2 separate regions of the Homo sapiens genome follow, and region 2 is linked to region 1. The links come from fine-mapping of genetic effects on gene expression. A gene starts in region 1. The other region holds a variant in brackets. All regions are shown on one strand. Distances are from middle to middle.

Evidence for each region. PIP is the estimated chance that this variant, and not a neighbour inherited with it, causes the effect. A credible set is the group of variants that fine-mapping cannot tell apart.
Region 2: its variant is the best candidate, but not a certain one, in a credible set for the expression of KIFC2 in whole blood (TOPMed, PIP 0.51).

The regions. Positions count from the first base shown.
Region 1 is chr8:144,463,540-144,468,896 of GRCh38, reverse strand. KIFC2 (kinesin family member C2) reads right to left here and starts at 2,560. Exons shown (of 18, transcript NM_001369769.2): 1 at 2,379-2,560; 2 at 2,059-2,137; 3 at 1,787-1,938; 4 at 1,556-1,694; 5 at 1,267-1,412; 6 at 1,118-1,183; 7 at 910-1,038; 8 at 491-568; 9 at 247-361; 10 at 63-172. The coding sequence starts at 2,477. TMEM276-ZFTRAF1 (TMEM276-ZFTRAF1 readthrough) reads left to right here and starts at 3,196. Exons shown (of 5, transcript NM_001408018.1): 1 at 3,196-3,326; 2 at 3,801-4,088. The coding sequence starts at 3,996. TMEM276 (transmembrane protein 276) reads left to right here and starts at 3,405. Exons shown (of 3, transcript NM_032687.4): 1 at 3,405-3,544; 2 at 3,801-4,088; 3 at 4,285-5,072. The coding sequence starts at 3,996. The coding sequence ends at 4,770. RefSeq lists enhancers at 1,567-1,666, 1,357-2,193, 4,392-5,005, 5,100-5,357 and silencers at 1,837-1,896, 1,967-2,276, 2,327-2,886, 2,947-3,076, 3,147-3,406 and 1 more.
Region 2 is chr8:144,671,425-144,676,781 of GRCh38, reverse strand. The region is part of intron 1 of ARHGAP39 (Rho GTPase activating protein 39); the gene reads left to right. Among named protein-coding and RNA genes, the nearest start is that of ARHGAP39, 12 kb to the left of the region's middle. RefSeq lists an enhancer at 2,417-2,916. The variant C/T (reference allele first, on the strand shown) is at 2,647.

The DNA.
Region 1 (5,357 bases):
CGTCAAAAGAACAGTGAATAGGCTGCCCAGAGAGGAGGGGCTAGGCGGGGAGGGGTCCTGACCTGGCCCCGGGCCTCACTCAGCGAACCCTGACAGCTCTGGGTAAAGGTGCTGACCAAACCTCGGAGGTCCCCGCAGCCCTGACGCAGGCTGGCCATCCGTGCCCGAAGTCCTGGAGAGGGAAGTCTGTTGGAAGGGAAGGCCCAGCCTCCAGGGCCTCCCATGAGCCCCAACCCCAACCCTTACCTGCCAGCTGCCCATGCATCTGCTGTAGCTCACGCCTGCAGTTCTGCTCCGTCTCCTGCTGGAGCTGCTGGAGGGCCCCTTGAAGGCCCTGCAGCTGCACCTCCTGCACCCCCAGCTGCCCCGCCCAACCCCACCCCTGTCACTGAGGAAACAGGCACTTACCAGGCCCTGCCTCAGATAAGCCCCTCCCAAAACCCCAGCCCGCCTCACCCCTGAGCCATGGATCCCTGGGCCCCATGCCCACCTGGGCTCGGAGGGCTTCTGTGGTGTCTTGGGCCTCCTGAAGCCGGCCCTGGAGCTCTAGCAATGCCTCTGCCTCCTCCTGCGGGAGGGTGGGGGCCAGGAGGGACTCAGAGAGGGACGGTCTGTGGTACCATTTCACAGATGGGAAAGTCAAGTCAAGAGGTGGGCAGAGCTGGCTGTGAACCCATGCCTCCCAGCTCCACGCAGACCTCCTTCCCACAGTCCCTCTGCTCTCCTGGGGTCAGCCACTCAGAGGGGCCACGGAGAGGGGGGTCTTCCCATTGGCATCAGCCTCCCTGATGGGGCTGCCCTACACAGACCATCCCGGGAGGTCCTGAGGAGGCTCGGGCCCTGTGGCTGCATGCCAGGTGTGCAAGAGCCCCAGGCTGCAGGAACGGCTGCAGCTCGGGAGCAGAGTACCTGCGGAGCCCTGATGGGGGGCCCGGGGCCCCAGTGCAGCAGGAGGTCCCGCATGAGACTCAGGCTCTGCTTCAGGGCCTCGTTCTCCAGAGTCAGATGCTGAACCCTTTTCTCTGAGTCCGTCGCCCCCTGGTGGAGAGGAAACCTCGGCACTCACCTGAAGCACCCCCTCCATGCCCGGCCCTGCCAGGTCTCCCTGCAGCCTCACCACGCCCAGGCGCAGTCGACCCAACTCCTCCTCCTGCTGTTCCAGCTGCTGCTTCAGCTCCTCCAGCTGGGGAGAAGTAAGAGAGACAGGGTGGACCTCCTTTTTCTGGCGTCCCAGCCGGCAATCCCTTCTGGCTCCAGGGACCTCACCTGTCCCAGGATGAGCTGCTCCAGCCGCTGCCACGCCCTCTGATCCTCCTCCAACTGGAGGGGCTGCTGTCCCTGGGTCTCATCCCCCAGTGGCTCGCCTGGGACTGCGGTGAAGTGGGAAGGGCTTTCTTCTTGGGATGTGGATCCTGGAGTAGGGTGGGCCCAGTTAGCACTGAAGAGGTCTCTAGTCCAAATCTTCCGGAACATGACCCCGAACTCCAGGCCGCCCAGGTTCTACCGGGATTTGCTCCCTCCAGAGTTCTTCTTCAACTTACTGTCCTTTACTCACCATCTGGAGAGGGGGGCCGGACCCGAGGGGCTGGCTGAGTCCCCTGGAGCAGGGCCTGCCTCCCCCTGGGGCTTCGAAGCCATGCCAGAAGGGCCAAGAGCTGACTGGTCACTGTCAACAGTGAGGGGACCTCGCCAGACTGCGAAGGAGACAAGAATCCGAGCAGGGCTGTGAAAGCCAGGAAGGCCGGGGCAGGTGGTACCTGCCAGCAGCCCCCTCCGCCGCGCTCACCTGGCCCAGGTCCGCCGGGCCCCCGCAGCTCTCTTCCGCCCCCAGCTGGACGGAGAGGAACTCGGCGAGGCGCAGTAGGGCCTCTTCCAGGGACACCGCGGCCGCGCGGCCCTCGGCTGCGCCTTCCGACCCATCCTCAGGCTCGGAGCTGGCTGCCGGTCAGGGAGGAGGGCGGGAGACATTTCGGGTCACGTGCTTGAGCCAGGCCTCCGCCCCTCCCTGGGAGGTCCCGGCACCGCCCTCGCACCGCGGGACTCCCAGCCCGCACCTACCGGCCAGGCCGGTCAGCTCGGTCCACAGCTCTGGCGCGGGCAGGTCTGGGCGCCGGCGACCCCGGGGCTTGCGGGCTCTCTAGGGAGGGGGCAGGGGCGCCCCTGAGGAGGGGGGCAGGCAGCCTGCTGGCCCCTTCCCTCCGCGAACCGGGCCGGAGGATTGGGGCCGAAGTCTACGCTTCCAGCATCGGGGCCGAGCCGAGGGTCCTCGGCACGGCCCCGTCGCCCCGCGCCCCGTGCCCGCCCCCGCCCCGGGAACCTCGGCGTGGGGGTGGGGCAGGCGGCGGGAGACGACGGGCTGCACGGCCAGCCCCGCTCACCTGGGCGGGGTCCCCGGGCTCCGCGGCCGCCGCGGCGCCACCATCCCTGCGGAAGAGGCTGTAGAAGATGTAGATGAGCAACGAGTAAAAGGCGTACATGGGAGCGCGGGGCGGCAGAGGGCCCCGCTTCGCGCCGCCCCGCGTCCCCGCGCCCAGACTCGGCGCCCGCCCGCCGCAGTGCCGGTGCGCATGCTCGCGACGGCCGCCCCCACGGCCCGGCTCCCACGGCTGGAAGGCGAGCGCGGGGACGGGGGTACTAGAAACAGGTGCCCGCGGCCGCACCTGGAGACCCGCCGTTTCTCACGGCGCCGCCCGGCGCGCCCCAACCCCTACACCGCGGACACCGGGCTGAGAGCGCCCACGGCTCCCGCGACCCTCCTCTCGGAATCCCTCCCACCCTCCGCGTAGTCCCCCACCGCTCCGGTTTCGCGGAGCCTTCAACACGCCGGGGTTCTCCTTCCTCTCCCTACAGCCCCGCCCATCTCAGCCCCGCCCATCTCAGCCCCGCCCAGACCCCCCCTCCTCGCAGCCCCGCCCAAACCCCGTTCCTTGCAGCCTCGCCCAGGCTCCTCCCCTCTCGGTCCCTCTCAGTCTCGCCCAGACCCCTCTCCTCGCAGCCCCGCCCAGGCCCCGCCCCTCGCAGCCACGCCCAGACCCCCCCATCGCATCCTCGCCCAGGCCCCGCCCCACCCAGGCCCCCTCCCTCTCAGACCCGCCGCTCTCAGCCCCGCCTAAACCTTATCTCCCTCAGCCCCGCCCAGACCCCCCGCCCCTCGCAGCCCCGCCCAGACCCCGCCCCTCGCAGCCCCGCCCCGGCCCTTCTCCCCTCATCACGCTCCTTCCAAACCACTATGCCCACGCACGCACCCACCCAAACAGAGCGTTTTCTGGTCCCCGAGCTCCTCCCGACCCCACCCGCTCCTACGGCCTCCAACCGGCCCCCCCCAGGTCTCGACCCTCTCCCCCAGGCCTCGACCCTCCCCCCCCAGCCGCTCTAGCCCCGCCCGGCCGCTCTAGCCTCCGCTCCTCTCGCTGGTGGAGGTTCCCGACCGCGCTCGCTCCCGCAACTGGGGGCACGGCAGAGGAGGCAGGGCCGACGGCGGTGGGCGGTGCGTTGCGCAGGCTCGGGCCTCCCGCTCGCCGCTGCGTTGGGACCGCGCAGCCCGGTAACTGCGCACGGCTGGCCTCCCGGAGTCCTGCGCCGTCGCTCCTCCTGGACCCGGGTTCCCAGGACAACGCCTCCCGGAACGCAGGGAGCAGGCCGAGGCCGCCGCGTGGGCCTGCAGCGCCTCGCCGCTCTCTCTTCCCCAGGCCCGCACTCCCACTTGGGCTCCAGGGCCCCAGGGCTGACGTTCCCCCCAGCTTAGACCCTGAGTCGTTTTCCCCCGTTTCCCGGCTGAATTAGGTTCTTCTTCTCCACAGGTGTGTGCAGTGGCCTCAGGGATCCGGAAAGTCTAGGACTGAACTTCTCCTAACATCCAGTAATGGGGACCTGGAACCTGGGCTTACTAGAGTGCCGCGCGTAGGGCTCCAGGTCGCTGGCTTCTGCGCTTCCTTCCTCTCCAAAGTTGAGTATCTCCTATCTGTGTCCTCGTACATACTGCCGCCTGAGGTGCCATGGCCCCCAAGCCGGGGGCCGAGTGGAGCACAGCCCTGTCCCATCTGGTGCTGGGAGTGGTGTCTCTGCACGCAGCCGTGAGCACAGCCGAGGTGAGTACACTGGGGCTGAGCAGGGGCGCATCCCCATACCTCCCAAACCCCAAGGACCTAGTTTCCTGAATTAGAGAGAGGTTGGTGGGAAGTGCGTCTAAGACCAGGTCTCCATGGAAGCCCCAAACCCTTTCCTGTTTAAAAGGGTGACCCCGGCCTCTTTTTCCCACGTGTTCTCCCTTCCCTGTGTTGACAGGCAAGTCGAGGGGCTGCTGCTGGCTTCCTGCTCCAGGTCTTGGCTGCCACCACCACGCTGGCCCCAGGGCTGAGCACACACGAAGACTGCCTTGCTGGAGCCTGGGTGGCCACCGTCATCGGCCTTCCCCTTCTGGCCTTCGATTTCCACTGGGTGAATGGGGACCGCTCCTCTGCCAACCTGCTCCTGGGAGGAGGCATGGTGCTGGCAGTGGCTGGCGGCCACCTCGGCCCTGAGGGCCGCTCTGTGGCTGGTCAGGCAATGCTGTTGGTGGTCGCAGTGACCATCCTCATTGTAGCTGTCTTCACGGCCAACACTTATGGGATGTGGGGGGGGGCGATGCTGGGTGTGGCAGGCCTCCTGAGCCGGCTGGAGGAGGACAGGCTGCTGCTGCTACCGAAGGAGGATGTCTGTCGCTGGGCCTTGGCTGTAGGCAGCTGGGCTTACTGCCGGGCCCTGCATACACAGCGCCTCCAGTGGGAGTGACAGTTGGATACAGCCAGGCAGGGTTTCTGCCCTGCCGAACACTTTCCCTCCCACCTGCCTGCTCCTGGCGCCTTCTCCCTAGGGGTAGACTCTTCTGCCTACTGAAGTGGGTTTGCTGCACATTGACTGGTCAGGGGCAGAGTCTGGGTGCTGTCCTTTGGCCACGTGTGGGGACTTGTCTAGACCAGAATGAAAGGGACAGGGTCCCAGACACGTTTGGGGGTCCTGATTCTGGGCTGGACACGGTTGTGGATCCAGAGAAGAGGCCTAGTCTCCAATAAATCTTAGGAATTTTGCAGGAATATGAAAACTGCCCATTTTTGAGAGGGATTGAGGGATCTTTCAGTGAGCTTCCTAAGGCCCCTCAGGACAGTAGTCAGTTACCCTGACAGGGTATGTGCTGGAACTAGGATGGGGTCTCATGCAGCCCGGCCTCCTTTTGACTATTGTCAGGAAGACCCCTGGGCTGAGAAGACATAGCCCTGGGCCCTTACTCTCCAGGGACATGGTGGAGTTCCAGATATCCTGGCCTGGCCTGGCAGGTGGCCCTCTGGGGCAGTGACCTTCAAGAACTGAAGAGTAGGGTG
Region 2 (5,357 bases), 210 kb before region 1:
GGCTCCCTCTGCTCGCAGAGAGGTGTGGAGGGAGAGGCGTGGGCGGGAGCCGGTGCTGTGGCTGGCGCCTGCTGGGCTTGATCTGGGACGAGCTTCCTCTGGGCTGCCGGAGTGCCCGGGCTAGGTGCCGTGAAGTCCCACCATTGAGAGGTGAAGCCGGCTGGGCTTCTGGGTCGGGTGGGGACTTGGAGAACTTTTCTGTCTAGCTAAAGGTTTGTAAACACACCAATCAGCAGTCTGTGTCTAGCTAAAGGTTTGTAAACGCACCAATCAGCACTGTGTGTCTAGCTCAAGGTTTGTAAACGCACCAGTCAGCAGCACGTGTGTCTAGCTCAAGGTTTGTAAACGCACCAGTCAGCAGCACCCGTGTCTAGCTCAAGGTTTGTAAACGCACCAATCAGTGCTCTGTGTCTAGCTAATCTAGTGGGGACTTGGAGAACTTTTGTGTCTAGCTAAAGTATTGTAAATGCACCAATCAGCACTCTGTGTTTAGCTGAAGGTTTGTAAACATACTAATCAGCACCCTGTCAAAACGGACCAATCAGCTCTGTGTAAAATGGACCAATCGGTGGGAGGTGGGTGGAGCCAGATAAGGGAATAAAAGCAGGCCACCCAAGCCAGCAGCGGCAACACGCTGGGGTCCCCTTCCATGCTGTGGAAGCTTTGTTCTTTTGCTCTTCGCACTAAATCTTGCTGGTGCTCACTCTTTGGGTCCGCGCCGCCTTTATGAGCTGTGACACTCACCGAGAAGGTCTGCAGCTTCACTCCTGAAGCCAGCGAGACCATGAACCCACTGGGAGGGAAGAACAACTCCTGACGGGAGGAAGGAACAACTCTGGACATGCTATCTTCATGAACCGTAACACTCACCGCGAAGGTCTGCAGCTTCACTCCTGAAGCCAGGAAGACCACGAACCCACCGGAGGGAACGAACAACTCCAGATGCACTGCCTTTAAGAACTGTAATACTAACCACGAAGGTCTGCAGCTTCACTCCTGAGGCCAGCGAGACCACGAACCCACCGGAAGGAATGAACAACTCCAGACGCACCGTCTTTAAGAGCTGTAACACTAACCACGAAGGTCTGCAGTTTCACTCCTGAAGCCAGGAAGACCACGAACCCACCGGCAGGAACGAACAACTCCAGATGCACTGCCTTTAAGAGCTGTAACACTAACCACAAAGGTCTGCAGCTTCACTCCTGAGGCCAGCGAGACCACAAACCCACCGGAAGGAATGAACAACTCCAGACGCACCATCTTTAAGAGCTGTAACACTAACCACGAAGGTCTGCAGTTTCACTCCTGAAGTCAGCAAGACCACGAGCCCACCAGAAGGAACAAACTCCGGACACACCATCTTTAAGAGCTGTAACACTCACCGCGAGGGTCCGCGGCTTCGTTCTTGAAGTCAGCAAGACCAAGAACCCACCAATTCTGGACACAGTGGCGTACCGGGAGGCAGAGGTTGCAGTTAGCCGAGATCATGCCACTGCTCTGTAGCCTGGTGACAGAGTAAGACTCTGTCTCAAAAAAAAAATGCTAAGTGAAAGAAGCTGGAGACATACTGTATGATTCTAATGGCATTGGTGGCTTGTCTGGAGTGGCTGCTGCCATGACGCTGGTTGCAGCTGGGGAGGCTTGGGGCTGCATGGTCCATGGAGCTGGTGGGAACTGGGAACAGGCAGGAGCTGCACCCCCTTCCAAGTTGGAGGGGTGGGAGCCTGGCCCTCCTGGGCACAGCTGCAGCTGCCTAGCTGTGGCTATGGACCCAGACATCCCTGCTCTCTCGGGGACTCAGGAAGCCCCCCTTCCCCTGCAGACTCAGAAGCAGGCCAGCCTCCTCCCGCTACCTGGCCTCTCCCTGCTCCTGGTCCCCACGTCAATTTTGGAACAAAGTTGAGGCTGAGCCCAGGCACTGTTGCAACCTGGCCAGGTGTACATGCACTTGGGGCAAAACTGACATGCCAGCCCCCTGCCTTCTCGGCCGCCTTCGGACTTTGGGTGCCGACGAGCGAGCACAGGAGGGAGCCCGAGGAGGGGCTGAGGGCAGCTTGGTGCAGGCCTGCAGGAGCCCCTCAGCACAAATAGCCTGGGCACCATGGACGGCAGGTTGATGGTAGCAGGAGGCAGACAGGCTCCTGGGTGAAAAGGGGCAGGTCCCTGATGAAGCCCCATGTTCAAGTCAGGGACAGCCTGAAGCCTGGGGGCTGGGCTGCCAGTTCCATGGACCAGAGTAAGAGTTTATGGTGCTTTTTCTGGGCCTGCCCATGGCCACCCGTGAACCATTCAGCACATACTTTCTCCCCTCTGAAGCCCATAAAAACCCTGGACTCAGCCAGACTCAGGCAAACAACAGGACAGCCTGCCTGCAGATAGGATAGGAGCTAACCAGTCCGAGTCTCCTCTCTGCTGAGACCTGAACAGTCGTCAAGACAACCCGTATGCGGAAAGGAGCTACCCACTGTGGGTCTCCCAAGAGCTGTTCTGTCGCACAGTGAAGCTCCTCTCCACCTCGCTCACTCTCCAGTTGTTCACGTACCTCATTCTACCTGGACATGTGACAGGAACTTGGGACCTGCTGAATGGCGGGACTAAATGAGCTGCAACACAAACAGGGCTGAAACACACACTCCCCCCGACCAC[C/T]GCCCCCCACCACTCACCACGTTGCAGGTAATGAAAAGGAGAGAAGAGCTGCAGCACTTTGGGGAGCCCAGACCTAGGGTCTCCTCGAGCCAGGGCTGTGACACCCTCTTTGGGGTTCTGTGGTTCCTGGCATCTCCAAGCTTCTGGATGCCACTGCATTCCCCTCATCCAGATGCAGGTGCCCACAGTGGAAGCCACATGCAGTACATCTGGTCAAGCCGCAGCCTCGCACAGAGCTGGCACCTGGAGCAGCCTGCCCCGCTGCAGCTGGCATGCCTGGCTATGCACGGTGGCCTGACCCTGCGCTTGCTTGCCCACACACCCCTTGCCACTTTGCACCTGGCTTGCACTTGGCAGGTGTGGGATCTGGGCCGGTAGTGTGAGCTGAGAGCAGTCTGCCGGCCTGAGTGGGCGGAACAATCCCAGTGGGCATGAGCAATACTCAGGCAGAAGGCACCACTGGCCACAGCGGTTTCTGGCTGGTGAAGCGACACCCCAAGGATCTCATGACAATTCCGTTTATGTGAAGTGTCCAGAAGAAGTGAATCTGTAGAGATAGAAAGTAGATTAGTGGTTGCCAAGGGCTAGGGGATGACAGCCAAGAGGTATGGAATTTCTTTTAGCATAATGAAAATATTCTAAAATTGACTGTGGTGAAGGTTGCACATATCTGTGAATATACTAAAAATAACCTAAAATCATATACTTTAATTGGGTGAATTGTATGTAATGTGAATTCTATCTCAATGAAGCTGTTAAAAACAGGAGTGACTAGGATTTTTCAGAAGAGAACATTCCAAGGTGAGAGTCAGAAGGCTGCATGCCCGCAGAGGGCCTTGGTGCGGGTGTGTTCTTGGGGGCTGTGGCAAGGCGATGAGTCCCTGATCAGTTTCTTTTCTTTCTTCCTCTTTTTTTTTTTGAGACAGGTTCTCAATCTATCACCCAGGCTAGGGGGCAGTGGCATGATATCTGCTCACTGTATCTTTGACCTCCTGGGCTCAAGCGATCCTCCTGCCTCAGCCTCCCAAGTAGCTGGAACAATAGGTGCATGTCACCATGCCCAGCTAATTTTTGTAATTTTTGTAGAGGCAGGATTTCACCCTGTTACCCAGACTGGTTTTGAACTCTTGGGCTCAAGTGATCCTCCCGCTTCTGCCTCCCAAAGTGCTGGGATTACAGGCATGAACCACTGTGCCTGGCCCCTGATCAGCGTCAAATTTCAGGTGGTAGCGATGCTACACTGGTCTCCGTGCAGAAGACTTGAGTTAAACATTGACTTAATCGCTGCCTGTGTGATTGAGCACAGATAAGTCAGTTAAGCACTCGAGCTCTTATCTGCAGATAAGATGCTTGTCCTGCTTATTTGTTCAAGGTTGTTGTGAAGCTGAAGAATGGCTGAGTCTCAGTGGGTTCTGTAAATTACTGTTATTTGTGTATAATAGGAGTTTTAAAAATTAATATCAACACTAAGAGGCTGATGAACCAGCCTCTTGCAGGCTGGTCTAGGCGCACACAGAGCACAGTTGATGGTGGTGTAGACAGATGTGAGGCGTGGGAGCACTGCTGTCTCCCCAGCTCCTGGCAGCCAGGGTGCTGGACACAGGGTCCAGAACCCCTTGTCTGGCCAACAGTGTTTGAGTCTATTTTCCTTTCTTGCCATGCTCCTTTCATCTTTCCTGCCTTTTCTCTTGATTATTACTTTAAACTACTAGAGGCCCCAACACTATCCTGACAGAGTGGCTGATGCTTCCTTCATGGGTTGAGTTTACTGTTAGCCTTGAGATACTCCTAGTGGTTTTCTGTTACGGTCCCTTCAAGCATTCCCTGGGATCACAGAGGTGGCCAGCATGTTCCTCCTGCCACTCAGAGCTGTGCTGAAGCCTCTGCAGTGTAAGTTTCCCCGGAATCTGACTGCCTGCTGCATGTGTGGCTGATAAAGGGGAGCAGCTTCTGAAACTCTAGGTGCTGTTTCTATTTAATTGCGGCTGTGTTGACCTTTTATTTTCTATTCAGAATTCAGGCGTGCTGTGGAAATTCCCACATGTGGGAGGGGGTAGTGCTGTGACGTCCCTGAGACCCTCGTTTACAGCATGTGCCGGAATCACAGACGGCGTCCAGGAACAGTGTGGGGCTTTCTGCCCAAGGCCACTGGGGCCCAGGATGAGCCTCACTTGGGCGGAGCCTGTCTCCATTGCTCTGGCAGGGCTCTCACACCTGGTCTTGTGTTTGCCAGGCCCACCCACACTCATCTCGCCCCTGTCTTTACTGTTGCCTGTATGTGCCAGCCACTTGCCAGTCAGATACCCCCGACAGGGAGGAGACAGACCAGGCCTCTGGTGGGGGACACGGGAGTGAGTTGTGCTAACATCCTGTGGACAGCAGAGGTGGCCGTGTGCCTGGGGTCGTAGGGAGAACCCTAGGGTGGCTGGCCGGGAGGGGCGTGGAGTTCAGGTAGGCTTTCTGGAGAAGGGGTGTCTTGTCTGGAAAGGAGGAGTATCAGCAGCTGAGCCTTGGGCTATTCACCAGGCACAGAAAGAGCCTCAGGCGGGAGGGATGTGTGGCCGGAGCCGGCAGCTCTGTGACTGGAGTGTTGGCGAGAGCCCAGGTGAGCAGGCATCTGGGGGTCAGGGAGCAGGTGGGAGGGTGGTGTTTGCAGCGTGTAGAGTGACACTGTCTCCTGAAGGGGAGCACTTCTCAGCTTGAGCCCCACC